Regions from separate parts of the Homo sapiens genome. Here regions 1, 2 and 4 are each linked to region 3. Evidence: fine-mapped expression QTL. A gene starts in region 3. Each other region holds a variant in brackets. All regions are shown on one strand. Distances are from middle to middle.

Region 1 (6,278 bases), 28 kb after region 3:
TCCAAATACTTATAATAAGGGTTGTTAGAGATTTATTTATGTTAGGTAAATTTAAAGTTAAGATATATCTTTGCTCTCTTATGTGTTATGACAATATGAGGACTAAACAAAACAATGTTTGAAATAAGTTTAATTTACCTCAGTGTCAGTATTATTTTTCTTCCTATTGTTATTGATTGCTTCATTATCTTTTCTTTTCTTTTCTTTTTTTTTTTTTGAGATGGAGTTTCGCTCTTGTTGCCCAGGCTGGAGTGCAATCGTGCCATCTCGACTCACTGCAACCTCTGCCTCCTGGCTTCAAGTGATTCTCCTGTCTCAGCCTCCTGAGTAGGTGGGATTACAGGCATGCACCACCATGCCCAGCTAATTTTGTATTTTTGGTAGAGACGGGGTTTCTCCATGTTGGTCAGGCTCGTCTCAAACTCCTGATCTCAGGTGATCCACCTGCCTCAGCCTCCCAAAGTGCTAGGATTACAGGCGTGAGCCACCATGCCCGGTGATTGCTTTCTTTTCTAATATTTTCACTGCCATCTCACTTTTAACCTTCTCTAAGAGCAGACACAGCAGCTGAGCCTGACACCCATTTCAGTCAACTTCTCTATTCCACTCAACATACCCATAACACAAAGAGACTAAATACCTAAACCACCACCATCTAAATCCCATGAGTTGGTCACAATATGTGGAGACACAGTTCTCTTTTTTGATTTTTCTTACTTCTCAATGGCCACTTTCAAATGAGAAAAGTTATTCAGTTGAAGGACAATCCAGAATTCAACCATACCTTGCTTTTGTCAATATCAGTTTACCTGGACTTGAAACTTCACCTTCTACCTAACATCTTCTTCCACAGGTTCCTTCTTCCTGGTGAGTGCTCTGCTGATCAACGTTCTGAAAGTGAGCCCATTCAACAACGGTCAACTGGTCATGGGATCTTTCGTCAAGAATGAGTTTTCGGCCCCCTCCTACCTTATGGGCTATAATAAATCCTTGAGTGTGGTGGCAACCACAACTTTTCTGACTGGGATTATTCAGGTAGGATCTGAGTCTTCAAATCCCTGAAAAGGAACTGAATAAAGGGGCTATAAACAGACCCCTTCCTTATACTGCTCCTGTGATCCACTGTGATATACCTGGAACTTCAGTGATTTATTTTTTGAAAAATCAGAGGCTGTGTGAATAGCGTGTCTCCTTAGTGACAAAACTTCTCTCTCCTCAGAAATCATCTACCACTGATTTAGGATGAGATATTAAACATTCTCTTCAGTCCTTTCACCTCTAAGACAAAGGGTCTAAGGGATGATGGTCCAGAGCAGTGGTCCCCAACCTTTTTGAAACCGGGGACCAGTTGCAAAAGAAGACAATTTTTCCACAAATGGCAGGTCGGGGCCAGGGAGGGTGGTGGTTTTGGGATGAAACTGTTCCACCTCAGATGACCTGGCATTTGATTCTCATAAGGAGCATGCAACCTAGATTCCTCGCATGTGCAGTTCACAATAGGGTTTGTGCTTCCCTGAGAATCTAATGCTGTGGCTGATCTGACAGAAGGTGGAGAGCTCAGGCAGTGATGCTTGCTTGCCTGCTGCTCACCTCCTGCTGTGCAGCACCCGGTTCCTAACAGGCCACAAACCAGTACCAGTACTGGTCGGTGGCCCCAGGGGTCTGGGGACTCTTAGTCCAGAGCTCCACTCCTGATCTTACCTTTTCAAAAATTGCTTCATATTCTTTTTTTTTTTTTAGATGGAGTTTTGCTCTTGTTGCCCAGGCTGTAGTGCAATGGGACAATCGTGGCTCACTGCAATCTCCGCCTCCCAGGTTCAAGTGATTCTCCTGCCTCAGCCTCCCAAGTAGCTGGGATTACAGGTGCATGCCACCACACCCAGCACATTTTTATATTTTTAGTAGAGAAGGGGTTTCACCATGTTAGCCAGGCTGGTCTTGAACTCCTGACCTCGGGTGATCCACCCACCTCGGCCTCCCAAACTGTTGGGATTATAGGTGTGAGCCACTGCACCCAGCCAAAAGTTGCTTTATATTCTATCAACAAGAATGGACTCATTTAGCTGGGCATGGTAGCATGTGCCTGTAGTCCCAGTTACTCAGGAGGCTGAGGTGGGAGGATCACTTGAGCCCAGGAGGTTGAGGCTGCAGTAAGCTGTGATCATGCCACTGCACTCCAGCCTGGGTGGCACAGCGAGACCCTGTCTCCAAAATAATAATAATAATAAAAATAATGATGGCCTCACAGGCTCACACACTATCTTTGGGTTAGTAAGCTTTAGAGCCAGATCTGGAATCCTTTTTCTGCATTGACAAGGACCACAGCTAAAGGACAATAATATGAATGACTCATTAAAATCTCAAAACTTATTTTGGCTCTGTCTTTAATTTCCTCTGAGAGTCTATCACCAAAAGTTCATCTACTGAACTAGTCACATCCTCCAGGCTTATTTCTCTTTTTTCTCAACTAACCCAGTCTCTAGTTGATTTTCACTGATCTCCCCTGGGACTGTCTTTCACTAAGTAAAGATTTATTGGGTACCTACAAAGGCAGGCTATCAAAGTGGGCAGACTCCAGCCCTGACACTATGAGCTGTGTGAATTTTGGTAAATTATTTTACCTTGGTGGGCCTCAGTTTCCTCATGTATAAAGCAGGAATAATATTTGTTTTGCAGGGTTCTTAGGAGGATTTAGTGAAAAAAATGCATGCAAAGTATTTAGCCTAGAGCTTGTCACATAGTAAGCATCAATAAGTTATAATTAGTGGGCACAGAGAAATGAATTTGGTACTTTAACAGAGACCAAAAATTTAAAAAACAATATATAGTTTCCTGTGGTTAAAAAGTTTAATCTTGTGGGATAAGACAAAATACACAAGCAACCTTTTAATTATCAAGGGGCCTCATGCATGCTTTCTCTTCTCCTTCAAGCCTCAGCTTTTTTCATCTAAAAAAGGAAGAGGGCTGGGCATGGTGGCTCACATCTGTAATCCCAGCACTTTGGGAGACTGAAGCAGGAGGATTGCTTGGGGCCAGGAGTTTGAGACCAGCCTGGGCAACATAGGCAAACTCTGTCTCTACAAAACAAAATAAAAAAAAAAAATAGCTGGGTGTGGTGGTGCACGCCTGTAGCACACTACTATGGTCCTTATTTTAAGAAAACAAGGGCATAGAGAGGTTAAGAAAATTGCCCAAGGTCACATAGCTAAGACACCAAACTGGGATTCAGTTTTAGGGTTGTCTGATTGTAGAATCTGTGCTCTAGGAAATCTTAAGCATAAAATAATATTCATATAAGAGTTTAGTGCCAAAAGAACATGAAGTTAAAAAATAACCTCTAGTTGAGTCGAAGTTATCTGGGAAGGAAACAACTATTTATTGAGCCCTCCCTTTCATTCATTCAACATTTAGTACTGGCTTCCTATAAGAATGGCAGATAGGTTTCATCTCACAGGCCAACCCTGACTGATTAACAGTGGCTGCCTAGAATATTATGTTAACACTGAACGTGATGCCATATTACAGTGGGCAAGAAAGAGTTCTAAGGCAATTGCAGATTTTTGCCATTTAC[A/G]AGATGGAAGGCAGGGATGGTATGAAGAAGAGTAACATATATTTGCATATATGAGTGATACATATTTGTCACTATTTTCACATCTGAGCTAGGTATTTTACATGTGTGATGAAATTTAATCTATTCAAAACACTTTACATTGAATATTATTCACATTTTATAGATGAGGAAACTGAGGTTCAAAGAGTTAACTTGCCCACACTTACACAGCCAATGAGTGGCTGGGCCAGGACTGAAGCCAGATTCTCCAAGCCCAGGAACCATGCTTTTTTCACCACACTCCTTAAAGGAGAGGAATTTTACTGAGCTCTTGAAAGATGATGCAGGCCAGCCACAGTGGCTCACGCCTGTAATTCCGGCACTTTGGGAGACCAAAGCGGGTGGATCACTTGAGGTCAGGAGTTCAAGACCAGCCTGGCCAACTTGGCGAAACCCTGTCTCTACTTAAAAATACAAAAATTAGCCAGGCGTGGTGCTGGGCACCTGTAATCCCAGCTACTCGGGAGGCTGAGGTGGGAGAATCACCTGAACCTGGGAGGCACAGGTTGCAGTGAGCCAAGATTGTACCACTGCACTCCAGCCTGGGTGACAGAGCAAGACTCCGTCTCAAAAAAAAAAAAAAAAGAGATGATGCACATGGATTGGCAGAGATGGAAAAAAGAGGGGCTCATGCATAAGCACAGAAGTAGGAGTCAGCCAGTCACGCAAGAAATAGGAAGCAGACTGGCCTGACTAGAGTAAAATAGAACATTGGGCGGCAATGACAGGAGATTAAGGGAGAGACAGTTGGCAGGGCGCAGTGGCTCACGCCTGTAATCCCAGCACTTTGAGAGGCCGAGGCGGGCGGATCACAAGGTCAGGAGATCGAGACCATCCTGGCTAACACGGTGAAACCCTGTCTCTACTAAAAATACAAAAAATTAGCCGGGCTTGGTGGCGGGCGCCTGTAGTCCCAGCTACTCGGGAGACTGAGGCAGGAGAATGGCGTGAACCTGGGAGGTGGAGATTGCAGTGAGTCGAGATCACGCCACTGCACTCCAGCCTGGGCGACAGAGCAAGACTCCGTCTCAAAAAAAAAAAAAAAAGAAAAGAAAAAAAAAGGGAGACACAGTGCCGGGCTGATTGAAAGCTTTGAAACAAAAACCTGTTAAAGCAAAATGATTTATTGTTCCAAATTTGTTTGTTTTCTGAGAGCTTTTAGTGGAGTGGAGAGTGAAGTGATGATTGTAAGCTTTAAGACTTCTGTTTTGCTCCTTTCCACCCTGCTTACTGAAAAGTCTTCATTGGGCTGTGCCAGTTTTCTTAACCTACCCTCTTTTTGTTTTTTATTTTTCTTGTTGTAGAGACAAAGTGTCGCCATGTTGCCCAGGCTCATCTCAAATTCCTGAGCTCAAGCGACCCTCCCACTTGAGCCTCCCAAAGTGCTGAGATTACAGGCATGAGCCACCACACCCAACCTAATTGTGGTTTTTATTATAAAAGACGAACATCTCAAATAGTAAAAAAGTGTATAAATTATCAAATATTGTCCCCAACATCTAACCCCATTCCCCAAAGGTAATTCCTGTTAATCATTTGAGGTCTATCCTTTTAGATCCTGTGTGTATAAAATTTTATTATATACTATATAACATAAATTTTACATATGCATATTGACATGTAAAATACCTTTTTTATTTTCCTTCAGGATATGCATAATCCTGAAAACATAAATAAATTCAATTTAATTATTCTCAGTAAAGATAAGAGTCAAAGGCCAAGAAGTTTGAGCTCGATCCCACTGTTTTGAAATTCTCTTCTCCTTTGTGAAAAGCTGCATTCCTCAGAGGAATGTTAACATCTCCTGAAAAGGGCTATCAAAGCTTCTAATGAAAGAGGTTTAAAAAGGCAAAGGCAGGCCAGGCACAGTGCGTTCATGCCTGTAATCCCAGGGTTTTGGGAGGCCAAAACAGGAGAATCACTTGAGGTCAGGAGTTCGAGACCAGCCTAGGTAATATAGCAAGACCCCCCCCTCCAATCTCTATCAAAAAAAAAAAAAAAAAAAATGCCCAGTGTGAGCATCTGTAGTCCCAGCTATTTGGGAAGTTGAAGCAGAGAATCCCTTGTGCCCAGGAGTTTGAGGTTACAGTGAGCTATGATTGCACCACTGCACTCCGGCCTGGGCAACAGAGTGAGATCCTGTCTCATAAATAAATAAATAGGCAAAGGCTTGTTCTGATCACCTTGTCCCTGTTTTCCCCAAGTCAACCTAGAGAGCAGTAGATTCTAGGGCAAGAACTTAAGTGAGCTGACTGCTCACAAAGAAGGAAAGGAGTAGTGTGAGCTAGCACTTGTTGGGAGCCTCTGATCAACATACAAGGACCCGTGTTATCAACTTCTGTTCATTAGGGAAAGAGAGTTACAAGAGTTACCAAAGGGGCCTATCTTAACTTTTCTATTGGAAACCCTTCTTTTCCTGGAGAGTGCCATTGGTGCCATTGCTGGATTGAAGACATTCTACCCCACTCTGGTTTTCTCTTCTCTGCAGCTAATAATGGGCGTATTGGGTTTGGGCTTCATTGCCACTTACCTTCCGGAGTCTGCAATGAGTGCTTACCTGGCTGCTGTGGCACTTCATATCATGCTGTCCCAGCTGACTTTCATCTTTGGGATTATGATTAGTTTCCATGCCGGTCCCATCTCCTTCTTCTATGTGAGTAATTTCAAC
Region 2 (5,000 bases), 49 kb before region 3:
CTGGGGTGCAGTGGCACTATCTCGGCGCACTGCAAGCTCTGCCTCCCAGGTTCACGCCATTCTCCTGCCTCAGCCTCTCAAGTAGCTGGGACTCCAGGTGCCCGCCACCATGCCCAACTAAATTTTTGTATTTTTAGTGGAGATGAGGTTTCACCGTGTTGGCCAAGATGGTCTCTATCTCCTGACCTCATAATCCACCCGCCTTGGCCTCCCAAAGTGCTGGGATTACAGGCATGAGCCACCACGCCTGGCCATAAACTTTTTAAAGTAATCCAAATGTTCTTGGCTGGGAGCAATGGCTCACACCTGCAATCCCAGCACTTTGAGAGGCCGAGGCAGGTGGATCACGAGGTCAGGAGATCGACACCATCCTAGCCAACATGGTGAAATCCCATCTCTACTAAAAATACAAAAATTAGCCGGGTGTGATGGCGTGCACCTGTAGTCCCAGCTACTCGGGAGGCTGAGGCAGGAGAATCGCTTGAACCCGGGAGGCAGAGGTTGCAGTGAGCCAAGATCACACCACTGCACTCTAGACTGGGCAACAGAGTGAGACTGCATCCCAAAAAAAAGGAAAAAAAAAGAAATGGTCTTTATCATAAATGTGAGTTAAGTGGATATATAATTTTGCCAAATGAAATGGTGCATTCTAATGTACAGACATTTTTTCAAGTTAAAAAAATGAAATGGAACAAAAGTTCTAGAGCTGCTTGCTATTTAGAAACAATTAATTCACTTATTTTTTATTTGAATTATTTTGAGTGAGTGGGTTTCTGCCATTTCTCCTCTTAGAAATGTATTTAATCTAGTTATCACCTCTTTGGGCCTACTTACTTGATATTTGACTATTATCCTCCTTTATTATGACTAATATATCAAATTTATAATTTAACTTTATGTTAAAATAAAAACAAGTGATGCCACTTTCAATGTCACTTAGCTTACTCAGAAATGGTTTAAATTTCAAAGTCTGATAATAAAAATAATACGAATTTCAGATAGTCATGGCTCACAAAGCTACTCCCTAAGAAAGTCTGCCTGCTTAGTCAAACATATAATCTCAAAGTAAAGCAAACAATGAATACTGTCTCTTCATTTTACCTTCAGCTCACAGTCTTCATTCACAGCTAGATTACTAGGTTTTAGGTCCTAGGAAGCAAATACAGGGAAGACAGGATCAACTTTATGATGCATGATCAATTCTCCCCCTACAGGTAATAATGAGGATCCAGACATAAAAGACTTCATCCAGCTATCAAAAGACAATCTCCATCCTACAGTCAATATCCAGTCCAAGTTAGCCTTACATAGAAAAAAACTACACATCTTCTTTCTTTAATCAGCTTAAACCTACAGTAAAGTTGCAATCAATCAACATTTCAATGGCTAAAGTTTAGATTAGGATCTTGGCTAAATGCCATTCTTCCACTCTCACCCCACTTCCCCAAAATAATGTAATCAAAGTCACAATACATACCCTGTGAATTATGTCAGCTGAATGTATATACTGCAAAAGAGAAAAAAGTCAAAGTTACCTCCAACCTTCTATTGTCATATTATATAACATATTTGCTGCACATTTTCATGAATCAGTAAGAACTGCTAGTGTTAATAGTAAGATTAGAAATCAGCATAAGTAACTATCAGTATTGTGTACATTTACCATTACTATAATTTCCACAGCCATTGACTCCACTCAGTTGAGCTTTTAATCTATTTTCTGGTTGGCACTCTGGAGCTCAATAAGGACTCAAAGCAGCTAAATATCAAAGATGGGTTTAATTTTAAAACACTGTTTATCTGCCCCTCCAACAAATAAATTAGTCTTTCTTGAGGATTTTTTGAAAATCTCAACATTACGCTGACCAGATATTAGATTACATCAATAAATTATTGTTTAGATGTAAGAATGAAGAGTCCTTATCTTTCAGATATGCAAACTGAAGTATCTATGGATGGTATTATATAATGTCTAGACTTGCTTTAAAATAATCCAGGGCTTGGGAAATACAAAAGAAACATGATTGGCCATATGTCGGTAACTGTTGTCACTGAGTGAACATGGCAGTTTACTGTACTATATGACCTTTACCTGTGATTTTATGTGTTTGAATTTTCCATTAGAAAAGTTGTTTACTTGTTTGTTTAAGCCCTAAAAGGAGGGGAGAAAGGGAGAATTCATTTTAAAAAATTATTACTTGTATTATCTGTACCTTTAGACCTCGGAGAATTTGGTAGATAAGGAACTGAACATGGTCATCTGTAAGCTTCTGACATTTCACAATGTTGTTCAGATCTGCCCCCATGAGATGGGTCACCAGATACCTAGAAATTAGTGAAAAGTTACATAACAATCTAGAACCCCTAAGAAAGTTCTTATCTTCAGAAGACTTTTATAAGTTTTTTGGTTTTTTTGGTTTTTGTTTTTGTTTTTGAAATGGAGTCTCGCTCTACTGCCAGGCTGGAGTGCAGTGGCGCAATCTCAGCTCACTACAACCTC[T/C]GCCTCCCAGGTTCACGCCATTCTCCTGCCTCAGCCTCCCGAGTTGCTGGGACTCCAGGTGCCCACCACCATGCCCGGCTAATCTTTGTATTTTTAGTGGAGACGAGGTTTCACCGTGTTGGCCAAGATGGTCTTGATCTCCTGACCTCATGATCCCCCCGCCTCAGCCTCCCAAAGTGCTGGGATTACAAGCGTGAGCCACCGCACCTGGCCCGACTTCTAAGTTTTTAAGGGAAGGCTACCCTTCCCTTAAAATGGTAGCTGTACCACGATGACAGCTAAAAGCTAACAACTACTCATTTTTTGGGGGGAAGGGCACCTCATTACCTCATTTTCAACATCGCTATTCTTTTACTTTTCTTTTTTTTAGAGACAGGGTCATGCTCTGTCATGCAGTGGAGCAATCATAGTAATTCACTGCAACCTCAAACTCCTGGGCTCAAGTGATCCTCCTACCTCAGCCTTCCGAGTAGCTAGGACTAAAGGTGTGCACCACCACGCACAGCTAATTTTTTTAAATTTTCCTGTAGAGATGGGGTCTCACTATGTTGCTCAGGCTGGGCTCTAACTCTTGGTCTCAGGTGATCCTCCCAATTTAGCCTCCCAACATTACTATTCTAACTTTAACTACCTGCCATCTGTTCTAAACATTTACATACTTATTCCTACTTGACATATCTTTTTCCAGGTTATCTCAAGAAAAAAGAAACCAGGCCAAGCTTTGTGGCTCACACCTATAATCTTAGCACTTTGGGAGGCTGAGGCAGGAGTGTGAGATCAGCCTGGGTAACACAGGGAAACCCCATCTCTACAAAAAATAAAAGAGAAAAGAAAACAAAAACAGCAAAGGTAGGGATTAGAAAGATACATGTGTCAGTATCAGTTTTCTTACAAATGTTATTCTTGCATGACAAATATATAGTATAACTTACTGCATGGCTATAATTAAGTATCTTGTAGTTTTAAATCCACCGCTACATTTTCACCTCATTATAAGTCTTCCACATTACAGGTTCTAAAATAGGAGTATTTTTTTTATTTTCCAACTGTAATTCTTTTTCAGGAATGACTAGTGAAAGGATTTTGTTCATTGACAATATTCCTGCATTTACCTTAAAGGAAGGAGGAACATGTTTTATCTGGAGGCAAGATGAGGCATTCCAGAATTTCTCCTCACAGGTGTGGTGCTGGTTATTAATCCCATCTTTATGTGGTAAGATTAGGGAATGATTACATTCAAGTCCAACAGGTTCACCACACATATTCTAGACACAATGCCTTAACCCACTCATTACTGTATTACACAGCTATGGAAACATAGAAAGTAGATCGGTTCTAAAAAGGCTGATTTTTTTTTTTTTTCTTGAGACAGAGCCTTGCTCTGTCGCCCAGGCTGGAGTGCAGTGGCACAAGCTCGGCTCACTGCAACCTCCACCTCCTGGGATTAAGCGATTCTCGTGCCTCAGCCTCCCGAGTAGCTGGGATTACAGGTACTCGCCACCATGCCTGGCTAATTTTTGTATTTTTAGTAGAGGCGGGGTTTCATCATGTTGGCCAGGCTGGTCTCGAACTCCTGATCTCAAGTGATCCACCCACCATGGCCTCCCAAAGTGCTGGGATTACAGGAGTGAGCTACCGTGCCTGGCTAAGAGGCTGAATTTTTAAAAATAAGTGTAAGTTTTATTTACTGTCTAAGAATCATTCCTATTCCTGAGATTGGGTAATAATATATATCAGCTGAGCTATAAAGAATGCTGATTTCATTTCTATTTTCATTTTTTTATGAATTTTGGAGGGAAGAAAGCAGGTCAGTAATTTAGATCTATTATTAATATATTATAAGAATAAACGTGTGTGTGTGTGACCTCTCTTTATATACCTACACACACAACTAATACACTATATTTATTACTTTCTGTCCTCCAAGAGGAATGGAATTTTTTTCTCTGTCATAATTTCCTGGTAGGGCTGCCATGGTCAGTTCTCAATTTCATGAAGATCAACAGGACTTAACCTAGTTGCAACCTTAAGATGTTAGCATTTCATATTTTTAAAACTTGCATGTTTATACGGCCTTGAGGAAAGAGTAGACTCTAAATGTAATTAATAAGTAAATGAGACTGAAACGTTTTAAGAAATGTTCCAATCTCAACACAACATAACCAAAGGCACTAACTAGCACTTATTCTGTGTCCAGCACTGCAGCAAGCAGTTTATTATGTCCATGTACTCATTATGTCTCATGTACTCTTCCCAATAACTCTGTGAGATAATGTCCATTAGCGTTCCCATTTCATTGACAAGGAAATAGAGACAGAATAAGGATAAGCCATCTACTCAAGGTCAAAAAGAGTAGTAATGTCAGGAGTTGGATCTAAAACTAACTGACCCCACAGACCATGATCTTAATCACAGCACATATTCTTCCAACAATTCTTTCAGCTGATACAAAATTTACATCAAGGGAATGACCTTTTTAAAACTCTTTAAACGTCACAAT
Region 3 (6,206 bases):
TGCGGTGAGCCGAGATCGTGCCATTACACTCCAGCCTGGGCAACAAGAGCGAAACTCCGTCTCAAAAGAAAGAAAGAAAGAAAGAGACAGGTTCCGGCCAGAAGGCTGTTGCATTCCCATCTGCTCAAGGACATATGGGTTACTCTTTGAGATGCTGACGAAATATGTCCCAAAGGCAAATGTTAACCCTGCATCAAAGCTGAGGCTTTCCAGGGGCTGGGCTCAGTGGCTCACACCTGTTATCCCAGCACTTTGGGAGGCCGAGGCGGGTGGATCACGAGGTCAAGCGATAGAGACCATCCTGGCCAACATGGTGAAACCTCGTCTCTACTAAAAAAAATACAAAAATTAGCTGGGCGTGGTGGCACGACCCTGTAGTCCCAGCTTCTCGGGAGGCTGAGGCAGGAGAATTGCATGAATCCAGGAGGCGGAGGTTGCAGTGAGCTAAAATCGCGCCACTGCACTCCAGCCTGGCGTCAGAGGGAGACTCCGTCTCAAAAACAAAAACAAAAACAAAAACAAACCGAAGCTTTACATTAAAACTCTCCCAGTTAAACTTACATGCAGAAAAATCACCCTGGGAGTTTAAGATGCAAGTTCCCAGAACTCACAGGGAGTCTAATTGGGTAGGTCAGAGGAGGTCTTGATCAAGAGCATGCATTTTTATAATACATCTTAGGTGATTCTGATTCAGGAAAGTCTCTGATATCTCCCTTTGAGAAGCATTTAAAAAACCGTTACACTGAAGATTTGAAACTGACTCCTATCCTGAAGAGCCATCAGTGAAGAGGATTTTAAGCATTTAACTCAGGCCTCTTCGAGTAAGGAGAATAGGGCAGGAGTCTCATCGAATTTAGGCAAGTCAACTGACCTTTCCTGAACCTCAGTTCCAGCTTCTACGAGAGAATTCCTGCCCTGCATTCCCGACTAACAGAGTCATTTGTAAAAACCAAACAAGATAAATGTGAATGGGCAAGGCATTCTAACCCCATGCCTACATCCATTATCAACCTATGCCTATGCTAAAGCTTGTTACAATGAGCAGAAGAATCAGATCCTGTCTCATTCTCTTAGTTTCTTGTATTAGAAATAACTAGATCCAAGCCAGGACATTTCTCAACATTTCCCGTGATTATTCTATTTTGTGTCATACACACCTTGGAGGGCTCAGACTTTGCATATCTTGTCCCAACATCTAGCACAATGTCTAGAACATAAAACATGTGTCATAAATATTTGTTGAAAAAATTATGAACAGTGACCATGATTTCAAGTGGTACAGTATCCTCAGTCCTCTTCAAGGAAAGCAATATAAAACCAAAAAACAGATAGTCATGGGTGATTCATGGAAAGCTGTTTTGGATCCAATGTAGCTTAGGCTGGAATTCTCTTATCTACAAAAACATGTTGCTTGAGAATGTTCCAAACTAGGGAGGATAGGAAGCTTTCTAAGAAGTAATGGAGGGTGAAGGGGAAGTAAGAGCAAAAACATGATTGTGAAGACATGAGGGATGGGGTTGGGGGGATCAAGGGAATGAGGGAATGGTTACAAAGGGTGAGGAGGAAGCTTGGAAGTAGGAATCCTCAGAAATGCACATTTTTATCCTACAAATTGGGATGATGAGGTGAGGGTGAATGAAAGGGTAAAGATAAAGTAAGCAGTATATTCATACACTCATTCAACCAATGTGTATTAAATGCCTACTAGGTGTCAAACACTTGCAGTTTAAAAGTGATTAAAAACTACAGTTGCTGCCGGTGTGGAGCTTACAATCAATGGGAGGGCAATCATTCAACAAAAATTAATTGAATACTTCCTATGTCCACCACACTGCTGTAGGCACTGATAATAAAACAGTTAATGAAAGGGATAAAAGTCCTTGCCCTCATAGGGGTAAGATGATTTACAAAAAGGAATACATAAAGTGCATTATAAGGTAGACATTAACACAGTCATCAAACAAACAAGTGTAAAACTGTAACTGGGCCAAGCAGGAATACAAGGTGGAGTGAGAGACAGTGCTAGGGACAGGGATAGGGTGGGAGGAGGGTAAAGGGAGTGAGTGCAGATGGCATGTCTGCATCCAGAGCAGATCTGGGCAGGAGGGTGTCATTCAGTGGGGAGAGCCGGGTTTGTGGGGCAGACAGCCTATGGTTGGAGACCTGGGTGACCCTCCTAGCCTCCATTTCTTTTTACCTCTTCTGACCTGAGGAAGGCTTAAGTCTTCCGGAGACGTTAGTGAATTACCGTCTGTGCAGTACACATGTGACACATGTGCACTGCTGTATGTTCAGGACACGAGGCCTGGCACCAAATAGGCCCTCGATCAAGAATAGCAAAACCTCGGAGAGAGAAGGAGCCTTGGTATACAGGTTTACCAAATACCAAGGGGATCCCACGACTCAGGTATGAGGAGGGCGACCCAGGTACCACTTTCCTGGCTCCCTAGCCCAGCTGCTCATGCTCCTCTTCCTCGTCCCCTCCCCCACTCTCATCTCCTCAGCCCGCCCGGAACGCCCGCGGGCTAGGCCACAACGGCTCGGGAACCGCCGCCGGTATCCGCGTCCGCAGCGCCGCCAGCCAGGCGAGAGCCGTGTGGGATCCCAGCGCCCGCACTCCCGCCCCCGCCAAGGAGCCAGGTGAGCCGCTGCTGGGAGACGCCTGGGCGCCGGGGGCTGCAGGTCCCAGGGCGGGGGCTGCGTCCGTCACCGGCAGGTACCCAGGTATGCCGCAGAGCCAGGCACGCCGTGGGCACTCAGTCAGTATCTGTGGAATGAATGAATGATGGTCGTCCCTGGGAGCTTATCTCTGAGGTATTGTCTCTACTTTCAAAGGCCGTGTGGATGGCAATGACAAGAGACAACAGTGTGTGCGTTTTGCAAGCTGCATCCTTTCAAATTCTCCTGTCTATATTGTCAAAAGCCCCAGAACTGACGTGCTACCTGCACCCCACCGCCTACCCCATCCATTTCCTCCTGAGGCCTGACTGCCCGGCCGTTCCTCTTCCTTTCAGACCCCACTGCTTTTGTTAATTTTGTTCCCTGTGACTGAATCCCCACCCCCACCTCCTTGCCCCTTTCTTTTCATGTCAAATGCCGTTGATGTGTCAGGGGCCCCGTGAAGCCTTCTCCAGCACCCCCACCCCAATAATGAGCATCTCTCCAACACACCATGTTACTCTATCCACATTGCATGGAAGGTGGTTGTCCTATGTTTATGTGTCCAATGGTCATCCGCTTAAGGACTGTCATCTTACTAGTCATCCCTAGCCACTAGCCAGAGTGACTAAAGGATCTAAAGGCCAGGCTCTTTGCTTATACCTTTTCTGTATTCCCAATACATTCTCCATAAAAACCTAGGTAGTAACAGGTGTAGGGTTGTTTCTGATGGAATTACAAATGCTTATTTTGAAAATTCGGAAGTAAATTTTGCCTTTCCGTGATTATAGAAAACATAAGAAAGTTAACAATATCAGGGGGAAGATATTCCTGCAACTAAACTAGCTTTCAAGATTTCATATTATTTGGGTCAATAGCTAAAAAATTGGATTGTATTTAAACTTTTTATTCTTGACTTTTTTTTTTTTTTTTTTTTTTGAGACAGAGTCTTGCTCTGTCGCCCAGGCTGGAATGCAGTGGTTTGATCTCGGTTCACTGCAACCTCTGCCTCCTAGGTTCAAGCGATTCTCCTGCCTCACCCTCCTGAGTAGCCAGGACTACAGGCACGCCATCATGCTCGGCTAATTTTTGTATTTTTATTAGAGACGGGGTTTCACCATGTTGGCCAGGCTGGTCTTGAACTCCTGACCTCAGCTGATCCAACCGCCTTGGCCTTCCAAAGTGCTGGGATTACAGGCATGAGCCACTGAGCCATGTCTGGCCTATTCTTTACTTTTAAAGCACTCTGAACACAGATAATGTAAATAATTAGATAAATGGATGGATGGATGGATGGATGGATGGATGGATGGATGGATGGATAAGGGTACTATGGAGGGTGAAAGAGCTAGGCCAAAAGTGCTTGTATTTTAACAGGGCCCCCAAATTTAGCACTGAAAGGCTCATGAAAGATAATCCACTATATTTATAGTGGTAGTCATACTTTAATTTTTATCAGAATCACCTGGACAGCTTCTTTGCTTTTTTTCTACCTAGCAAGACCTACTGAATCAGAATCTCTGGGGGCCCAGCAGTCTGGACAGCTTCTTAAAACAGACTGATGGCCCCCAGAGTTTCTGATTCAGTAGGTCTTGCTAAGTGGGGCCTACTCAACAGTAGGAGTTTCTGGTCATTGCATCTTCTTGGGAAGTGTCCTGCTAGTACATGAAAATGAGCCACTAGGATTTCTATGAAATCAAGAAAGACATAATGGAGCTGGAGAAATTCCAAAGAAAATTACTTAAAAAAAATAATAAGGAAACCATGCGTTTACCCTTGCTGCTGTTAGCCAGACATTTGATGGAGTTCCTTAAAGACAACTTTCCACCTGCTCCTCCTAGCCATCCTCACTGTGGTCGTAGGAGTTTATGACTTGATAACATCTCCTAGACTAATATTAATGGTCTCCAATTGGCTGTTTTGCCTCAGTCTCTCCTATCTCCACTGTCCAACAACTTTTTGTGATGATGGAAATTTTTTATATCTGCATATCTGCACTGTCCAGTAAGGTAACCACTAGCCATATGTGGCTGTTGAGCACTTGAAATCTAGCTAGTATAATTGAGGATCTGAATTTTTTATTTTAAGTTTAAATAGCCACATGTAGCCAGTGGCTACCATACTGGACAACTCAGCTCTAGAACATAACACTGGCACATTTCATCTTCCCAAAATGCATCTCTGTGCGTATTACTACTTCTGCTGAAAGACTTTAAATAGGCCAGGCGCAGTGGCTCACGCCTGTAATCCCAGCAATTTGGGAGGCCGAGGCGGGAGGATCACCTGAGGTAGGGAATTCAAGACCAGCCTGGCCAACATGGCGAAACCCTGTCTCCACCAAAAATACAAAAATTAGCCAGATGTGGTGGCACATGCCTGTAATCCCAGCTACTCAGGAGGCAAGGCAGGAGAATCGCTTGAACCTGGGAGGTGGAGGTTGCAGTGAGCTAAGATCGCGCCACTGAACTCCAGCCTGGGTGACAGAGCTGTACTCCATCTCCAAAAAAATAAAAAATAGGCCGGGCGCGGTGGCTCACGCGTGTAATCCCAGCACTTTGGGAGGCCGAGGGAGGCAGATCACGAGGTCAGGAGATCAAGACCATCCTGGCTAACACCGTGAAACCCTGTGAGCTGAGATCACGCCACTGCACTCCAGCCTGGGCGACAGAGCGAGACTCTATATCAAAAAATAAAATAAAATAATATACATATATATTTATATGTATACGTAAACATATGTAAAGTAATTGACAACATTTAAAAGCCAGAAGATTCCACATAAAAATCTGGCATTATGGCTTCTCCTGGAAAAGATCAGATCTAAGCCATTCCGGGCCCCACATTGACCGATGGCAAAAATGGCTAGAGCTAAGCAGCTTCTGCTGCCTTTGCCAGCCCCACTGTTCCCACCACTCCTTGACGGTCATATTTTGCCTATTTTACACCAATCCTCCTTTAATGTCACTTTCAGAACAAAATGCTGGGTTCTAGACTCTCGATGTGACCCAGGATATCAGTTTTGTCATTAGCAGACTAATTAGGCTTGTTTAGGTTGCTGGGAACAAAGAGACTACTCATGGAAGTACATTGGACAATTATACGGGGAAAGTAAGGAAGATTGGGTCTGTATTCCTATGGGTGGGGAAAGAAAGGTGGGGGGGGATTCCTTACATTTCAATATACAGTTCTACCTTTTTTTCTTTTTGTAAGAGACATGAGGCACTAATTATCTTAAGTAATATATTGTAAAATACCTCTCCCATCCTCTTCTGTATTCCCCAGTCACCTCACTGGTTTAGAGAATTTGTGATCTTTAGTTCATGGTTGTTATACAGCATATTACTTCTACCCAATGCTTTGAGGGTAAAAATACAATATATAATTATGGCCCAATTACTTACATTTTCTAAAATCTTGGTTTTACACCTGTAAAATGAAAGAAATAGTAGTACTGGTATTGTTGTGGAAATTTAATGACATAACTCGTGAAGAAATCTAGTGCAATGCATGGCATAGGATAAATGCCCAATAAATGTTGGCAATGATGA
Region 4 (6,278 bases), 150 kb before region 3:
ATTTTGGCTATTCTATTTGTCTTTTCACATAAATTTGGGGACTAATTTTGTGTATTCTACATAAAACCTTGCTGAGATTTTAGTAGAAATTTTATTTAACTTATATATCAATCTGGGGAGTATTGACATTTTTAGAAGTGTGTTTTTAAATTTATAAATACATGGAGAGTTCCTTTCTTTTCTTTCCTTCCTTCCTTTCTTTCTTTCTTTCTTCTTTCCCTTCCTCCCTTCCTTCCTTCCTTCTTTCTTTCCTTCTTTCTTTCTTTCTTTTCTTTCTTTTCTTTCTTTCCTATGGAGTCTCGCTGTGTTGCCCAGGCTGGAGTGCAGTGGCACGATCTCGGCTCACTGCAACCTCCGCCTCCCAGGTTCAAGTAATTCTCATGTCTCAGCCTCCCACGTAGCTGGGATTACAGGCACTTGCCACCACGCCTGGCTAATTTTTGTATTTTTAGTAGAGACAGGGTTTCACCATGTTGGCAAGGCTGGTCTTGAACTCCTGACCTCAGGTGATTCGCCCACCTCAGCCTCCCAAAGTGCTGGGATTACAGGTGTGAGCCAGCACAGACAGCCTTTTTCTTGATTATTAACATCTCATTTAATTCTAGTGTAGTCAGAGAATGCTATTATTATAGCAGTTATTTGAAATTTGCTGACACTTTATGGACTAGTATTTAATTTTTATAAATGTTCCACATGTGCTTGAAAAGAATGAATATTCCCTAATTTTTAGATGTTCTATTGTGTTCTATTGTGTGATCAAAAACTAATCCTGCCAGCCTGGCCAACATAGTGAAACCCTGTCTCTACCAAAAAATATAAAAATTAGCTAAGCATGGTGGCACATGCCTGTAGTCCAGCTACTGGGGAGGCTGAGGTGGAAGAATCACTGGAACCCAGGAGGTAGAGATTGCAGTGAGCCGAGATCGCACCATGGCACTCCAGCCTAGGCGACAGAGTGAGACCCTACCTCCAAAAATAAAACAAAACAAATTAATTGTGTTATTCAAATCTTTTTTATTTTTTTAACCAATTTTTTTGTGTACTTATAACCCCCTATTTTTAAAATTATATAACAAACTTCTTCCTTCCTAATAATGTTTTTGTCTTAAAATCCATTTTCTCTAATATTAATATAACTACCTCAGCTTTCTTTTGTTAGTATTTGTCTGGATTAGTCTTTTTCATCTTTTTGCTTTCAACCTGTTGACTTATGTTTTAAGTGAGCCTATTGTACAGTATATTAATGGACTTTGTTTTTATTTCAAATTTAAGTATCTCTGTCCTAAATGGCACTTTTAGGTCATTAACTTTATTGTAATTATGATATATTTGGCCTTATTTCCATCACCTTGCTTTGTGCTTTGTCCCCTTTTCATTATATTCCCCCCACCACACGCATATACACATTTCTTGTCTCATTTTAGATTTTTGCCAATCTTTCTTTCCTTCCTTCCTTCCCTCTCTCCCTCCCTCCCTCCCTCCCTCCCTCCCTCCTTCCCCCCCATTCTTCCTTTCTTTTCTTTCTTTTGCATATATCTTCTCTCTATTGGTTTGGAAATTATACATTCTAATTTTATTATTTCGTGGTTACCATTAAAATTTCACCATGCATACTTTAAAATGTCTTGAGCTAATCAAATCTGTAAGTCTTCTGAACAACATAGTTTCCCTCTGAGGTTCTGAATCTTCAGATTCAATCAATTGCTGATTTAAAATATTTGAAAAAAATTTGGCCAGGTGCGGTGGCTCATGCCTGTAATCCCAGCACTTTGTGAGGCTGATCACCTGAGGTCAGTTCAAGACCAGCCTGGCCAACATGGTGAAACTCCGTTTCTACTAAAAATACAAAAATAGCCAGGCGTGGTGGCAGGCACTGGTAATCCGAGCTACTTGGGAGACTGAGGCACAAGAATCGCTTGAACCCAGGAGGCAGATGTTGCAGTGAGCCAAGATTGCACCACTGCACTCCAGCCTGGGCAACAGAGTGAGACCCTGTTAAAAAAGAAAATTAGGCCTCAGTAAACCTGATATTTTTAAAAAGAAAAAAAGAAATTGTATAATTAACCACTTTTGCACACCAAATATAAATGGTACAAGTGGGGATGAGGAATTTTAAAATTCATTAAAATGTATAAATATATACCCAACGAGGAAAGAAATATGGGTAGAGGTGACAGTCCCTATTCTGTAATTGCTTATGGGGCTGTGGTTGACATGTATAAATTTTCCTCTCTGTAATTTGTGTCATGTTCCCTTTGCCTTCACAAAAGAACTCAGTAAGTTGGAGTTTCTTACCAAACTCACCTCATAAGAATTACTTCCTTGGTAAATCTGTCTTCAGGGATATAGCAGTCTTCCATTAACTTTTTCCGTTGGATATGGTTGTTTAAGACCTGCTCCAGAATAGCAGACCTGAGTTCTATTAAGATTTTCCTATCCCGAGGTCAAGGCTATAGTGAGCCATGATAGTGCCACTGCACTCCAGCCTGGGTGAGAGAGTGAGACTCTATATCAAAATTTTTAAGATTTCCACATCCCCACTTTGAAGCAGCAGCCTTCTTTCCCATGATGATCAAGATTATTCAGGACCAGTCATCCCAGTCAACATCATGACCTTCTTTATTTTTTTTTTTGCCTGTGGTATAAGAGCCCAAAATGACCAGCAGTGGAAACATTGTTTTGTCTTCTTATAGAAGCAGTTATCTCTTGGATCCCCAAATGCCAAGTCAGCAGAGCCCCAAGTCATGGAGAGGAGAAGCAATAATTTGATGAGTAACAAACACATTAGACTTAATCATGAAAGATACTATCCCATTTCCACCCCATTGTTTCCATACCTGTACATTCTAATTACAGGAGAAGCCACACATACGCATACATTGGTTCATGATTCAGAACATATAATATATCCTGCATGCCAGTGCCCCAACCTCATGAGGTGT[TGTC/C]CCAATTGGAGGCACAGCTGGCTCTTCAGCAGGGCATTCTGCTATTCTCTAAGGCAAGCTGCCAGACTAGGCATGGTGGGAGCATGTGTTACTTATATTCAGACAGCTTATTGTATCTTCAGCTATGGCTGGAGCCTCATTCTGTATTTTATACCTCTTATAGCTCATGTTAAAATGTTGCATAGAATGCCCAACTTCATAGCTAGGTAGCTGAGACAACTCACAGTGGGCAGTTTTGATCTTAGCACTTGGACTCCCCCAGATCCCCAGAGCAAGGCTAGAGCAGTTTTCCAAAATGAAAATAATCACTTGCTTATGAGGCAGCGGCTTTGCTCCATTACTTTAGGGGCCTCCACTGCAATTCCTATTGAGGACTGTCACAGATTTCCTATCGCATTCACAATTGCCACTCATTTATGGAACACCATTGGATCCACGGGCTCATAAATGCTAAGGGAAGGAGCTTCCTATGTACTTCTGCATTATTTCAAGAAACTTCTGGCACCTCAACTTAGTGTGTTCCATTGTCAAGTGAACACCAGGTGGTTCTGGGTTTTGGTTAACCAGCTGAGCAAATTGTTAGAACTATTCCCTGCTGCTAGTATAATGAGTCCAAAATCATAAGGACATCCGCATCAGTAAATTCAGTCCCAAACTAAAACTATGTTCCTCCTCATTTGGTGGGCAGACACAGAATCCAGTTCTGCTATAAATGGGCAATATCCCTATATTTATTTTTGTGTGTAAAGCTTTTCCTAGGTTTGACTTGAACTTATATCTCTAAAAGCTTACTGGGATTTGTCTTTAGTTAGAGAGGATTGTCTTCCTCTTACAAGGAAAGGGGATAGATATGTTTTCGAACAAGGGAGAGACAGCTTCATCAGATAAGGGAGGAGAGAGAGACTTCTTCAGTGGGTAATGAAAGTGGAAGTGAATGTTGAGGCTAAACACAGGAGGGTAGTTGAAATAACAGCCCCTTCTACCCAAGTCCTAGCACAGACAGCACAGAATATTTTTCTAAAAAGAATAGAACACAAAGTCTGGAGGCAGCTAGTGTGATGTCGGCACCTCACCTAAAGCCCTCCTCATTCTGGAATTTGAGAACTTCATTGTAAAGTAAGATTCCTGCACTTTACCCAAAGCAATATAGGCCTCCCATGTACAGGGTCCTCAGTGAGATGTCTTCTTTTCTATTTTCACAATATGAGTAGAAAGCCAAAGATCACCAGACATTGAGAAAGGTCTATAGCATACAACTGGAAAATCAAAATTAAAAAAAAAAAGAAAGAAAAAAATCTGACACCAGAGACAATTCAGGAAATAGGTTAGAAACAACAAATAATTCATATTCTCAAAGATACAGCTTTTTTTAATTTAAAAAAGAATTATAATATTGTGAAACTAACAAAGAACAAGAAATAATTCTTGATAATTAAAAACATGATTGCTGATTTTAGGAAGATGATGGTAGCATAGTTTTTTTAAAGCAGCTTTATTGAGGTATACTTGGTATAAAATCATCTGCACATGTTTAAAGTATATAATTTATAAGCTTTGACATATGTATATACCCATGAAACCATCACAATCAAGATTATGAACATACAGTCACCTCCAAAAGCTTGCTCCAAAAGTTTGTAATTCCTTTTTTTTTTTTATTCCTCTGCCTCCCTGCCTGGTAACCAATGATATTCAAATGAAATGATATAGTATTACTATTTTGTCTGGCTTATTTCACTGAGTATAATTACTTTGAGATTCATCCATATCATGACATGTGTCAGTAGTTAATTCCTTTTCATCGCTTAGTAGTATTCCATTGTACGGTTATACCACAGTTTATGCATTCACCTGTGGATGCACATTTTGATTGTTTTCATTTTTTGACCATTACAAATAAAGCTGCTATGAATGTTTGAGAACAAGTCTTTATGGGCATATGTTTCCTTTCTCTTGGATAAATTCCTAGCAGTGGAATGGCTGAATCATATGGCAGGTTTATGCTCAATTTTTTTTTTCTTTAAGAAACTTCCAAATTGTTTTCCAAAGCAGTTTTACCATTTTTACATTCCCATCAACAGTGCATGAGAGTTCTAACTTTTCTACATCCTCACCAATACTTGGTATGGACAGTATTACAAAAAACTTTTTGGGACAGGGTATCACTCTGTTGCCTAGGCTGGATTGCAGTGGTGCGATTATGACTCACTGCAGCCTGGACACCTAGGCTCAAGTGATCCTCTGCCTCAGCCTCCTGAATAGCTGGGACTACATGCACCACCATGCCTGGCTAATTAAAAAAATTATTTTTTATAAAGACAGGGTCTCACTATGTTGCCCAAAGCGGTCTCCAATTCCTGGGCTCAAGCAGTCCTCCCTCCTTGGCTTCCCAAAGTGCTAGGATTATAGAGGTGAGCCATTACATCCGGGTACTATTTTTAATGGTTTAAAGCAACTTTATTGAGTTGTTATATAACTTACATACCACAAAATCCACCCATTTAAAATATACAGTTCAGTGACTTTTTAGCATCACAGAGTTGAGCAATCAACCTGACTATCTAATTTTAGAATTTTAGAAAAGGCCTCATCCCCATTAGCACTCACTTCCTACTCTGCCCTCTCCCTGACTCCATCTCCCATTCTAGGCAATCTCTAATCTGCTTTCTGTCTCTAGATCTGCCTATTCTGATTTCATGTAAGCTGCATCATACAATATGTGGTCTTTTGTGCCTGGCTTCTCTCATGTAGCATACTGTTTTCAAGGCTCATCCATGTTATTGCATGTATCAATACTTCATTCCCGTTTTAAACATTTTTTAAATTTTGAAATAATTATAGATTCACAGAAAATTGCAAAGATAGTACAGAGAGGTCTGGTGTACCCTTCATCCAGTTTCCCCCAGTGGTTACATCTTACATACTTACAGTACAGTGTCAAAACCAGGAATTTGACATTGGTAAAAAATAAAATGGTGTGCACCATTTTATCACATGTATAGATTCATATAACCACCACTGCACTCAACATACAGAACTATTCTATCACCATAACGCTCTTCCTCATTACTGCCCTGCTCAACATCCCTAAGCCCTAGCAACACTAATCTGATTTTCATCTCTATAGTTTTGTCATTTCAAGAAGGTTATATAAATGGAATCACACAATGTGTGAGATTGGCATAATGAATTTCCCCTAGTGTTCAAATAAAGACAGAATAGATAGTGAAACCAAAACCATGTAGATGATACTTTTAAGAAAACTAGGTGACAAACCCAGAAAATATCAGGGAGTGGGCCAGAACAACAGCCCCAAACCTACACAGTATCAGC

Evidence for each region. PIP is the estimated chance that this variant, and not a neighbour inherited with it, causes the effect.
Region 1: its variant is the best candidate, but not a certain one, in a credible set for the expression of SLC26A8 in whole blood (INTERVAL, PIP 0.54).
Region 2: its variant is the best candidate, but not a certain one, in a credible set for the expression of SLC26A8 in monocytes (TOPMed, PIP 0.72).
Region 4: its variant is the best candidate, but not a certain one, in a credible set for the expression of SLC26A8 in whole blood (TOPMed, PIP 0.54).

Annotation. Positions count from the first base shown.
Region 1 is chr6:35,992,495-35,998,772 of GRCh38, reverse strand. It overlaps SLC26A8 (solute carrier family 26 member 8), which reads left to right. Exons shown (of 20, transcript NM_052961.4): 5 at 854-1,035; 6 at 6,099-6,263. It overlaps LOC105375034 (a long non-coding RNA gene), which reads right to left and starts at 915. Exons shown (of 4, transcript XR_926746.3): 1 at 810-915. LOC105375035 (a long non-coding RNA gene) reads right to left here. Exons shown (of 7, transcript XR_926747.3): 7 at 6,192-6,278. RefSeq lists an enhancer at 5,160-5,673. The variant A/G (reference allele first, on the strand shown) is at 3,572.
Region 2 is chr6:36,070,198-36,075,197 of GRCh38, reverse strand. It overlaps MAPK14 (mitogen-activated protein kinase 14), which reads right to left. Exons shown (of 12, transcript NM_139012.3): 4 at 2,214-2,325; 5 at 1,478-1,507; 6 at 1,102-1,149. Among named protein-coding and RNA genes, the nearest start is that of MAPK14, 45 kb to the right of the region's middle. The variant T/C (reference allele first, on the strand shown) is at 2,501.
Region 3 is chr6:36,020,938-36,027,143 of GRCh38, reverse strand. SLC26A8 (solute carrier family 26 member 8) reads left to right here and starts at 2,503. Exons shown (of 20, transcript NM_052961.4): 1 at 2,503-2,640. RefSeq lists enhancers at 2,057-2,556, 2,557-3,058.
Region 4 is chr6:36,169,385-36,175,662 of GRCh38, reverse strand. The region is part of intron 2 of BRPF3-AS1 (BRPF3 antisense RNA 1); the gene reads left to right. Among named protein-coding and RNA genes, the nearest start is that of BRPF3, 24 kb to the left of the region's middle. The variant TGTC/C (reference allele first, on the strand shown) is at 2,943.